Linked DNA regions of Homo sapiens: region 2 is linked to region 1. The links come from fine-mapping of genetic effects on gene expression. A gene starts in region 1. The other region holds a variant in brackets. All regions are shown on one strand. Distances are from middle to middle.

What was found.
Region 2: its variant is fine-mapped to the expression of WDR45 in sigmoid colon (GTEx, PIP above 0.99). The same link has a PIP of 0.9 or more in esophagus mucosa and spleen.

Annotation. Positions count from the first base shown.
Region 1 is chrX:49,077,080-49,082,446 of GRCh38, reverse strand. It overlaps WDR45 (WD repeat domain 45), which reads left to right and starts at 2,560. Exons shown (of 11, transcript NM_001029896.2): 1 at 2,560-2,696; 2 at 4,335-4,406; 3 at 4,536-4,610; 4 at 4,700-4,804. The coding sequence starts at 4,352. It also overlaps the pseudogene RNU4-52P. RefSeq lists silencers at 1,791-1,860, 2,103-2,397 and enhancers at 2,103-2,397, 2,109-2,609, 4,059-5,258.
Region 2 is chrX:49,142,307-49,147,673 of GRCh38, reverse strand. It overlaps LOC105373195 (a long non-coding RNA gene), which reads left to right. Exons shown (of 3, transcript XR_007068230.1): 3 at 2,155-5,367. Among named protein-coding and RNA genes, the nearest start is that of MAGIX, 18 kb to the left of the region's middle. The variant G/A (reference allele first, on the strand shown) is at 2,820.

The sequences.
Region 1 (5,367 bases):
TAGGGCCAAAATTCACAAGTAAATATATACATGGGAATTGACGACACAGTATCTGAAACAACCTAGGCAGCCATCAGTTGGGGAAGGGCTGAACAATGCTACATAATATCATGAACCAGTTAAAAAGGATGAGTTAAAAAGATGTTCTTATATATTAATATATGAAAAAACAGAAGCATCAAAACAATACTTCAAAAAAAGTAAAGGGGGGATTTCATCAATGTGAAACCCTGATTGTATTAAAAGTATGAGATTTCTCTGTATTTTTTCTTTAATATTCAGTCTTCATAGACTGTCAAAAATTGCCAATGCCGACTATATTGCAAGTCTTCGGGGCGGGGTATTGGGAAGTTTCCAATTAGCAATATCCACACCTTGGCTAAACCTCATTGGCTATGATACTGCCACTGCAAAAAGCATATTTCTTTTTTTTCAAGAATATTCTTTTTTTTTTTTTTTTTTTGGAGACAGGGTTTCCCTCTGTTGCCCAGGCTGGAGTGCAGTGGCGCGATCTTGGCTCACTGCAACCTCTGCCTTCTGGGTTCCAATGATTCTCCTGCCTCAGCCTCCCAAGTAGGGGACTTACAGGTGCCCGCCACCACGCCCGGCTAATTTTTTGTATTTTAGTAGAGAGGAGGTTTCACCGTGTTACCCAGGGTGGTCTCAAACCCCTGAGCTCAGGCAATCCACCTGCCTCGGCCTCCCAAATTGCTGGGATTACAGGCATGCACCACCATGCCCAGCCCTTTTTTTTTGAGACGGGAATTTCGCTCGTCTCCCAGGCTGGAGTGCAATGGCAGGATCTGGGCTTGCTGCAACCTCCGCCTCCTAGGTTTAAGTGGTTCTCCTGCCTCAGCCTCCCCAGTAGCTAGGATTACAGGCGCGTGTCACCACGCCCGGCTTTTTTTTTTTTTTTCGAGACAGAGTCTCACTCTATTACCCAGGCTGGAGTGCAGTGGTGCGATCTCTGCTCACTGCAACCTCCTCCTCCTGGCTTCAAGTGATTCTCCTGCCTCAGCCTCCCGAGTAGCTGGGACTACAGGCACGCACCACCATGCCTGGCTAACTTTTTGTATTTTTAGTAGAGAGGGGGTTTCACCATGCTGGCCAGGCTGATCTCGAACTCCTGACCTCATGATCTGCCTGCTTCGGCCTCCCAAAGTGCTGGGATTACAGGCGTGAGCCACCGCGCCCAGCCTATTTATTATTTCTTAATGTAAAGTTTAATTAAAAATCCTTCCAGCCGGGCGCAGTGGCTCACGCCTGTAATCCCAACACTTTGGGGGGCCGAGGCAGGCGGATCACCTGAGGTCAGGAGTTCAAGACCAGACTGATCAACAGGGAGAAACCCGGTCTCTACTAAAAATACAAAATTAGCTGGGCGTGGTGGCACATGCCTGTAATCCCAGCTACTTGGGAGGCTGGGGAGGCTGAGGCAGAAGAATCCCTTGAACCCGGGAGGCGGAGGTTGTGGTGAGCCAAGATCGCGCTAATTGCACTCCAGCCTGGGCAAAAAGAGCCAAACTCTGTTAATCAAAAAAAAAAAAAAAAAAAAAAATTCCTTCCAGTATGCATATAATTTGGGGCCTTTTTTTAAAAGCTTTATCATAGGTAGGACCTCTTTTTTTTTTTTTTTTTAACCCAAAGCATTCATACCTTTTACTATCAAAAAGCTATTTTGTATTTTGTAAAAATAAAAGCAGAGGCCGGGCGTGGTAGCTTAAGCCTGTAATCCCAGCACTTTGGGAGGCCGAGGTGGGTGGATAACCTGAGGTCAAGAGTTCGAGACCAGCCTGACCAACATGGTGAAACCCCGTCTCTACTAAAAATACAAAAATTAGATGGGCGTGGTGGCGCACGCCTGCAGTCCCAGCTACTCCGGAGGCTGAGGCAGGATAACCGTTTGAACCCGGGAGGCGGAGGTTGCAGTGAGCCGAGATCGCGCCACTGCACTCCAGCCTGGGAGACAGAGCGAGACTCTGTCTCAGAAAACAAAACTAAACAAAACACAAAAGACAAAACTCAGAGCTGGCGGGGTTGGGGGGACAGGGTGGGGAGAAAGAAAGCGAAATCTGTTCCTTGGCTTCCCGGAGCCAAGGAGGTTTCTCCACTTTCAAGGTCTCCAGGTCCGCCCCCGCCTGTAACCCCCAGCGCCGCCCCTCTGGAAGCCTGGGAGGACTGTGTGTTGCGAACCGGGGCGGCTACTCTCGGCCGCCGCGGAGGTCCGCGTCTTGTTAGCAGGGAAGGTTTACTCCCCCATTGTGGGTGACCAAGGGGCTGAGGGCTTGGCCGGTTTCGCTTTGCTGGGGGCAAGGCACGCTCTCTCTCCCCACCCTTCCGGGTTCCCTCAGACAGTCTCGGCCTTGAGGAACCCCCTTCGCCTCCGGTCCCCCAGCCAACCTTCCTCCGCTCCCCGCGCCCTCCCCGGAGAACCCCACTGTCACTCGCGATGCTCCGAAGACCCGGGAACTAGGCGAGGAAGGCGGTGGCCGCCTTTTTCCAGCTGGGGTGAGTCATTTCCTGCGACAGGCTCCCTCCCCCGGAAGTAGGGCCTGATGTAAACACCCGAGCCGGGCTCCAAGGCCCGGGAGGTCAGAAAACCGGGCCGCGGGCGGCACCGACAGCTGGGGCCCGGGTCAGGGACACGCGGAGGTCAGGCCGGTGAAGGCGGCAGGAAGCTGGAGCACGATCCCAGGGTTGGTTGGGTCTGGGGGAGGCTGGAAGTCTTTCGAGTAGGGGTCTAAGGCAGAGGTCTTGAGTGGGTGCTGGCGTTGGAAGGAGCATGCGGCTGGTCTTGGGAGAGGGGCGAGGCATCCCGGACAGAGTCTTGGAATGGAGGTGCAAAAAAGGGGTGTTGAAAGTTGGAGCTGTCCAGAGAATAACTCTAAGGCAGAGCTGTCCAAAGAAAGAGCATGAGGCATTCCAGTGGAGGGTGTAACTGAAAGAAAGGAAGGAGATTTGGACTCTTGGAGGATGGGGGAGGGAGTATGTCTGGCCAGAGTTATTGGGGAGTTGAGGATTTGAAGGGAAGTTGGGGGCTCTATGGCAGTAATCTTAGTAGGGGACTGCGCAGGCATCTTAGGGGTTGAGGTTCTCCTAGGTAGGAGTTTTGGGTGGTTTGTTTTGGGCAAGGGTCTTAGAAGGCAAGGGTGCCCTGGGGCGGGGTCTTGGATAGGGGTCTAGAGGGGGAATCTTAGGAGGATGGGGGGGGTTCCTGGGGTTGGGTCCAGGCCAGGTTATGTTGTAGTCAAGGACAGCAGAACACAAGGAAGGAGATGTCCCAGGGGTGGAAAATTTAGAGTGCTAGGGGGAATCCTAGGGTAGAGTCCCCAGGGCATAAGCCAATCTAAGGGAATGTCTAGGCTGGCCCTGAAGGGTAGTTACCAAGGCATGAGAAGGGGTCATCCCAAGGTAGGCATCCTGAAGGAGTTTGGGGAAGCCGGTTGAGGGGGAAAGGTGTGAGAGGACTCTGGGGTGGTCAAATAGGTTGGGGTACAGTTAGAAGGGTATGAGCAGAGGAGTTCCTGGGGATGGCAGACCAAGCATAGCAGTCCCAGGGCCAAGTCAGGGAGGTACAAGAAGTGCATCTCCTAGCCCACTTTTGTCTATTTATTGAGAGAGTCCGGTGCTAGGTCAGGTTTGAAGATGAGAAATGGGTTGGGAGTGGTTCCAGGCCATGTCTGGCATTGGGATCAAGATTGGCTGGCGGTGGGGAGGAGATATCACGGGGGCACCCCCTATCACATTACTTCCTGACAAGTCAGTGAGGGCCAGCATGTAAAGAGGAGGTGTGGGGTCCACGTCAGTGTGGGCCTGGAGCTTGCCAAACCTGAAAGAAGGAGGGTTCCTGGCCATGTTGTTTGGGATCTTGGGAGCTTAGAGCAGAGACCCTGGGACTCTCTGTTTTTATCTTTTTCTTCCCCCCGAGACGGAGTCTCGCTCTGTCACCCAGGCTGGAATGCAATGGCTCGATTTCGGCTCACTGCCATCTCAGCCTCTCGGGTTCAAGCAATTCTCCTGCCTCAGCCTCCTGAGTAGCTGGGATTATAGGTGCCCCCCACCACACCCGGCTAACTTTTGTATTTTTATTAGAGACGGGATTTCACCATGTTAGCCAGGCTGATCTCAAACTCCTGACCTCAGGTGATCCACCCGCCTTGGCCTCCCAAAGTGCTGGGATTACAGGCATAAGCCACCACGCCTGGCCTGTTTTTATCTTTTTTGCAGTCACTCCAGAGTCAGTAGTTAGCAGAGTAGGAGGAGGAAATCAGGTGAGGCAGAACTTGGAGGGGAGATTCCAGGACTCTTCTCATCTTTATCCCATTTGTATGCAGAGGAACAATCCTGCACCATGACTCAACAGCCACTTCGAGGAGTGACCAGCCTGCGTTTCAACCAAGACCAAAGTGAGAGAGGATTGGGCCTGTACCCTTGTGGGAGGAAGCGAGGAAAAGAGGGGTCAGAAGTGGGCCATGGGCCCCCAGCTTCCTACCTGGGCATTCTTTAAGGCAGTCTGGATTCCTTCCATCCCCCAGGCTGCTTTTGCTGCGCCATGGAGACAGGTGTGCGCATCTACAACGTGGAGCCCTTGATGGAGAAGGGGCATCTGGGTGAGCTGTTGGCAGGGGAGGGGCAATGGGCAGAAGAGCTGGGCTGGGCGTTGGCTCCCACCTCCACTGACACCCTGGTCCCTGTCCAGACCACGAGCAGGTGGGCAGCATGGGCTTGGTGGAGATGCTGCACCGCTCCAACCTTCTGGCCTTGGTGGGCGGTGGTAGTAGTCCCAAGTTCTCAGAGATCTCAGGTAAGTGCCCTCATCCTGCCCTTTGGCCCAGATTTCTCGGATTCCTGGCCTCCCACAGGCACCCCAAGGTACTGGCAGATGAAGACGTCAGAGTACTTCAGAGTCACACAGAGAGGAGGCCTACAGCTTGGAAGTCATGGATCTTATAGCTTGAGAAGCTTGGTGCTTTGTTTTCATTTTAAAAATTCTGATTGAGTGCCTCCTGTGTGCCATGCCCTAGAGCACTTACTGTGAGCCTGGAACTGCCCTAAGCACTTTACGTTTATTAACTCATTTAATCCTCACAGTAACTCTATGGGGTAGGAAGGATCATTATCCCCATCTTTACCGATGAGGAAACTGAGGCCCAGTGCAGTTAAGTGACTCATCCAAGGTCACACAAGCAATAGGTTTTAAAATCTTGGAGCCGTCTTCCCAATACCCCCTTGGCTTGAGCCTCAAGTGCCATCTTACTTTAAGGGTTTTTCTTGATGATCCCATCTGGACAAGGCAGGAGTTGCCCTAGGTGAGTCACAGAGCCCTAGGATTCCTCACGGAAATCTCCAGGGTGCATGGACTAGGAC
Region 2 (5,367 bases), 65 kb before region 1:
GTACTAGTGGCAAAGGGACAGACAGCCAAGGAAGAATCCCGCTTCACCCACTGAGGGAAGTCGGCGCCTAAAGTCCTGTCCGACCCAACATCAAAGGATTCATGGCAAGAAACAGTGCCAGTGGCCCCTCCTTTCACCAAGAAAGAAGGCCTCCCACTCCTGAGGCCACTGTGCCCAAGCTTCCACAAGGCCTACATACCCCTAGGCCACCTAGAGTAGAAAAGAAAGGATGCAAGACCTCAGGAGAAACTCCTCACTTGGTAGCCCATTTGAGGCCTAAAACTGGGATACAAATGCCCCTGAGAGAGCAACGGTATACTGGGGTAAACGAGGACGGGCATATGGTGGAAAGGCGTGCCTTTGTGTACCAACCCTCCACCTCTGCCAATCTCCTCAATTGGAAAAACAATACCCCATCCTATACTGAAAAGCCTCAGGCTATAATTGATTTGCTCCAAACTATTATCCAGACCCACAACCCTACTTGGGCTGATTGCCACCAGTTGCTCATGTGCCTGTTTAACACGGATGAACGGCGAAGGGTGCTCCAAGCAGCGACTAAGTGGCTAGAGGAACATGTTCCGGCTGATTACAAAAACCCCCAAGAGTATGTGATGGCCCAGTTACCAGGAACAGACCCCCAGTGGGACCCAAATGAAAGACAGGGTATGCAAAGGCTAAACTGGTAGAGGGAAGCCCTCCTGGAAGGGTTAAAGAAAGGAGCTCAGAAGGCCACCAATATAAATAAAATATCTGAGGTTATTCAAGGAAAGGAAGAGAGTCCAGCACAATTTTACGAGAGACTATGTGAGGCCTATTGTATGTATACTCCCTTTGATCCCAACAACCCTGAAAACCAGCGCATGATTAACATGGCTTTAGTTAGTCAAAGTGCAGAAGACATTAGAAGAAAACTACATAAGCAGGCTGGGTTTGCAGGCATGAACACTTCACAGTTATTGGAGATAGCCAACCAGGTGTTTGTGAATAGAGATGCTGTAAGCCGCAGAGAGAACTGCAGAGAGAGCGAACGCCAAGCCCAGCGAAACGCCGACCTGCTAGCCACAGCAATAGAGGGGTCCCCCCCGAAGGGGCGAGAAAGGGGGGCCCCAGGAAAAATACCCAGTCCGGCCATCCACGCTTGCAGCGTAACCAGTGTGCTTACTGTAAGGAAATGGGATGTTGGAAGGACAAGTGCCCCCAGTTGAAAGGGAAACAAGGTGACTGAGCAGGAGGCCTCAGACAAGGACGAAAGGGCCTTGTTTAATCTGGCAGAAGGGTTACTGGACTGAGGGGGACTAGGCTCATGTGCACCCAAAGAGCCCATGGTCAGAATGACAGTCGGGGGCAAGGACATTGAGTTTCTTGTCGATACTGGTGCTGAACATCCAGTAGTAACCACCCTGGTCGCCCCCTTATCCAAAAAGACTATTGATATAATCAGAACCACGGGGGTTTCGGCAAAGCAAGCTTTCTGTTTGCCCTGGACCTGCACTGTCGGGGGACATGAGGTAATTCACCAGTTCCTGTACATGCCTGACTGCCCCTTGCCTTTACTGGGAAGGGACCTACTTAGCAAGCTGAGAGCCACTATCTCTTTTACAAAGCATGGCTCTTTACAGCTAAAGTTACCTGGAAAGGGAGTCATCATGGCCCTTATGGTTCCTCGGGAGGAGGAATGGAGACTCTTCTTAGCTGAGCCAGGCCAAGAGATAGGACCAGCTCTGGCTAAGCGGTGGCCAAGGGTGTGGGAGGAAGACAACCCGCCAGGGTTGGCAATCAACCAGGCCCCCATACTAATAGAAGTTAAGCCTGGGGCCCAGCTGGTCAGGCAAAAGCAGTACCTGGTCCCCAGAGAAGCCCTTGAGGGCATCCGGGTCCATCTCAAGCATCTGAGGGCCTTTGGAATTATAGTCCTTTGTCAGTCTCCATGGAACACTCCCCTCCTACCTGTTCCCAAGCTGAGGACCAAGGACTACAGGCCAGTACAGGATTTGCATATGGTCAACCAAGCAAAGTGACTTTGCATCCAACCCATACACATTGTTGGGGTTGCTGCCAGCTGAGGACAGCTGGTTCACCTGCTTGGACCTAAAAAATGCTTTCTTTAGCATCAGACTATCTCCTGAGAGCCAAAAACTGTTTGCCTTTCAGTGGGAGGATCTGGAGTCAGCTGTCACCACTCAGTACACTTGGACCCGGCTCCCCCAAGGGTTCAAGAACTCCCCCACCATCTTCGGGGAGGCACTGGCTCGAGACCTCCAGAAAATTCCCACCAGAGACCTAGGCTTCGTGCTGCTCCAGTACGTTGACAACTTCCTGCTGGGACACCCCATGGCAGTCATGTGTGCCAAGGGAATGGATACCCTGCTCTGGCACCTGGAGGACTATAGGTATAAGGTGTCCAAGAAGGAAGCTCAGATCTGCAGATAGCAGGTATGTTACCTGGGATTTACTATCCGACAGGGAGAGCACAGCCTGGGATCAGAAAGAAAGCAAGTCATCTGCAACCTGCTGGAGCCTAAGACCAGAAGGCAGGTGAGAGAATTCTTAGGAGCTGTAGGGTTCTGCAGATTGTGGATCCCAAACTTTGCAGTATTGGCTAAGCCCCTGTACGGAGTCACAAAGTGAGGAGACACAGAACTTTTCAAATGGGGGTCCCAACAGCAATGAGCTTTTCATGAGTTAAAAGAGAAACTCATGTCGGCCCCAGCCCTGGGGCTACCTGACCTAACAAAACCTTTCACACTGTATGTGTCAGAGAGAGAAAAAATGGCCATTGGAGTTTTAATCCAGATGGTGGGGCCCTGGCCAAGACC[G/A]GTAGCCTACCTCTCCAAAGAGCTAGATGGAGTTTCTAAGGCAAGGTCTGAAAGATGCGAGATGTAGAAGTACCAGCCTAACAACTTTTCAAGTGACTCTTGGCCTAGGTGGGTGGTCTCATGCACAGCCAGTATGACTGCGGCTCCTAGCAGTTGTGGCATGGCTATTCTTCCATCCGACAACTGGATCCATCCCTCTTCTATCACCTGCCCTCCCTCTGCCTGGAGAAAGTCCAGGCAGGATGAATTGCTGGTGAATTATCTCATGCCCCCTGACAGTGCAGGTCTGGGGCAAACAGAAAGCTTGCTTTGCCGAAACCCCCGTGGCTCCAATTATATCAATAGTCTTTTTGGATAAGGGGGCGACTGGGGTGGTTACTACTGAATGTTCAGCACCAGTATCGACAAGAATTATCTGTCGATAATTGAGCCTGGCCCCTGTGCTTAAGAGCCTTGGCAGCAACTGCCCTGCTAGCACTAGAGGCAGATAAGCTACCTCTTGCCCTAACTTTATGTTTAGGGCAAAACCTAAACATAAAGGCCCCCTAGCTGGGCACGGTGGTTCACGCTTGTAATACCAGCACTTTGGGAGGCTGAGGCGGGCGGGTCATGAGGTCAGGAGATCGAGATCATCCTGGCTAACACGGTGAAACCCCATCTCTACTAAAAATACAGAAAAATTAGCCGGGCATGGTGGCGGGCGCCTGTAGTCCCAGCTACTCGGGAGGCTGAGGCAGGAGAATGGCGTGATCCCGGGAGGCAGAGCTTGCAGTGAGCCAAGATCGCACCACTGCACTCCAGCCTGGGCAACAGAGTGAGACTCCATCTCAAAAAAAAGAAAAAACATAAAGGCCTCCCCATGCTGTGGTAACACTAATGAACACCAAAGGACGTAACTGGCTAACGAATGCTAGACTAACTAGGTACCAAAGCTTGCTCTGTGAGAATCCCCGCATAACCATTGAAGTTTGCAACACCCTGAACCCCGCCACCTTGCTCCTGGTATCAGAGAGCCAAGTTGAACATAACTGTGTAGAGGTGTTGCAGTCAGTTTATTCTAGCAGGCCCGACCTCCGAGACCATCCTTGGACAACAGTAGACTGGGAGCTGTACGTGGACGGGAGCAGCTTTGTCGACCCACAAGAAGAGAGGTGTGTAGGATATGGTAATCCTGGATGCTGTCATTGAAGCCAAATCGTTGCCCTAGGGCACTTCAGCCCGCAAGACCAAACTCATTGCTTTAATTCTGGCCTTTGAGCTAAGTGAAGGTAAGACTGTAAACATTTACACTGACTCTTGGTATGCCTTTTTAACTCTCCAACTGCGTGGGGCATTCTACAAGGAAAAAGCCCTGTTGAACGCTGGGAGAAAAGACATAAAGTATCAGCAAGAGATCCTGCAATTATTAGAGGCAGTGTGGAAGCCCCAAAAGGTGGCTCATGCACTGCAGAGGACACCAGCGAGCTTCTACCTCGATTGCCTTGGGGAACCCCCAAGCTGACTCAGAGGCTCGAAAAGCAGCATCCACCCCCTACCAGGCATCAGTCACAGCCCCCTGCTCCCTCAGGCACCTGACCTTGTACCTACTTATTCTAAAGAGAAGGACTTTCTCCAGGCAGAGGGAGGGCAGGTGATAGAAGAGGGATGGATCCAGTTATCGGATGGAAGAATAGCTGTGCCACAACTGCTAGGAGCCGCAGTCATACTGGCTGTGCATGAGACCACCCACCTAGGCCAAGAGTCACTTGAAAAGTTGTTAGGCTGGTACTTCTACATCTTGCATCTTTCAGCCCTTGCCAAAACAGTGGCGCAGCAGTGTGTCACCTTCTGGCAGCACAATGCTAGGCAAGGTCTAACCATCCCCGCCAGCATACAAGCTTATGGAGCAGCCCCTTTTGAAGATCTCCAAGTAGACTTCACCAAGATGCCCAAATGTGGAGGTAACAAGTATTTGCTAGTTCTAGTGTGTACATACTCTGGGTGGGTGGAGGCCTATCCAACACGGACCGAGAAAGCTCGTGAAGTAACCCATGTGCTTCTCCGAGATCTCATCCCTAGGTTTGGACTGCCCTTACAAATCAGCTCAGACAACGGGCCGGCATTTGTGGCTGACTTGTTACAGAAGACAGCAAAGGTATTGGGGATCACATGGAAACTACATACCACCTACTGACCACAAAGTTCCGGAAAGGTGAAGCAGATGAATCGCACTATCGGAAATAGTTTAGGGAAAGTGTGTCAAGAAACAGGATTAAAGTGGGTACAAGCTCTCCCTATGGTATTATTTAAGATTAGATGTACCCCTTCTAGAAGAACAGGATATTCCCCTTATGAAATATTATATCATAGGCCCCCTCCCATACTACGGGGACTCCCAGGCACTCCTCGAGAGCTAGGTGAAATTGCGTTACAGCGACAGCTACAGGCTTTAGGGAAAATTACACAATTTCAGCCTGGGTAAATGAGAGGTGCCCCGGCAGCTTATTCTCCCCAGTTCACCCTTTCTCCCCAGGTGATCAGGTGTGGATCAAGGATTGGAACATAGGCT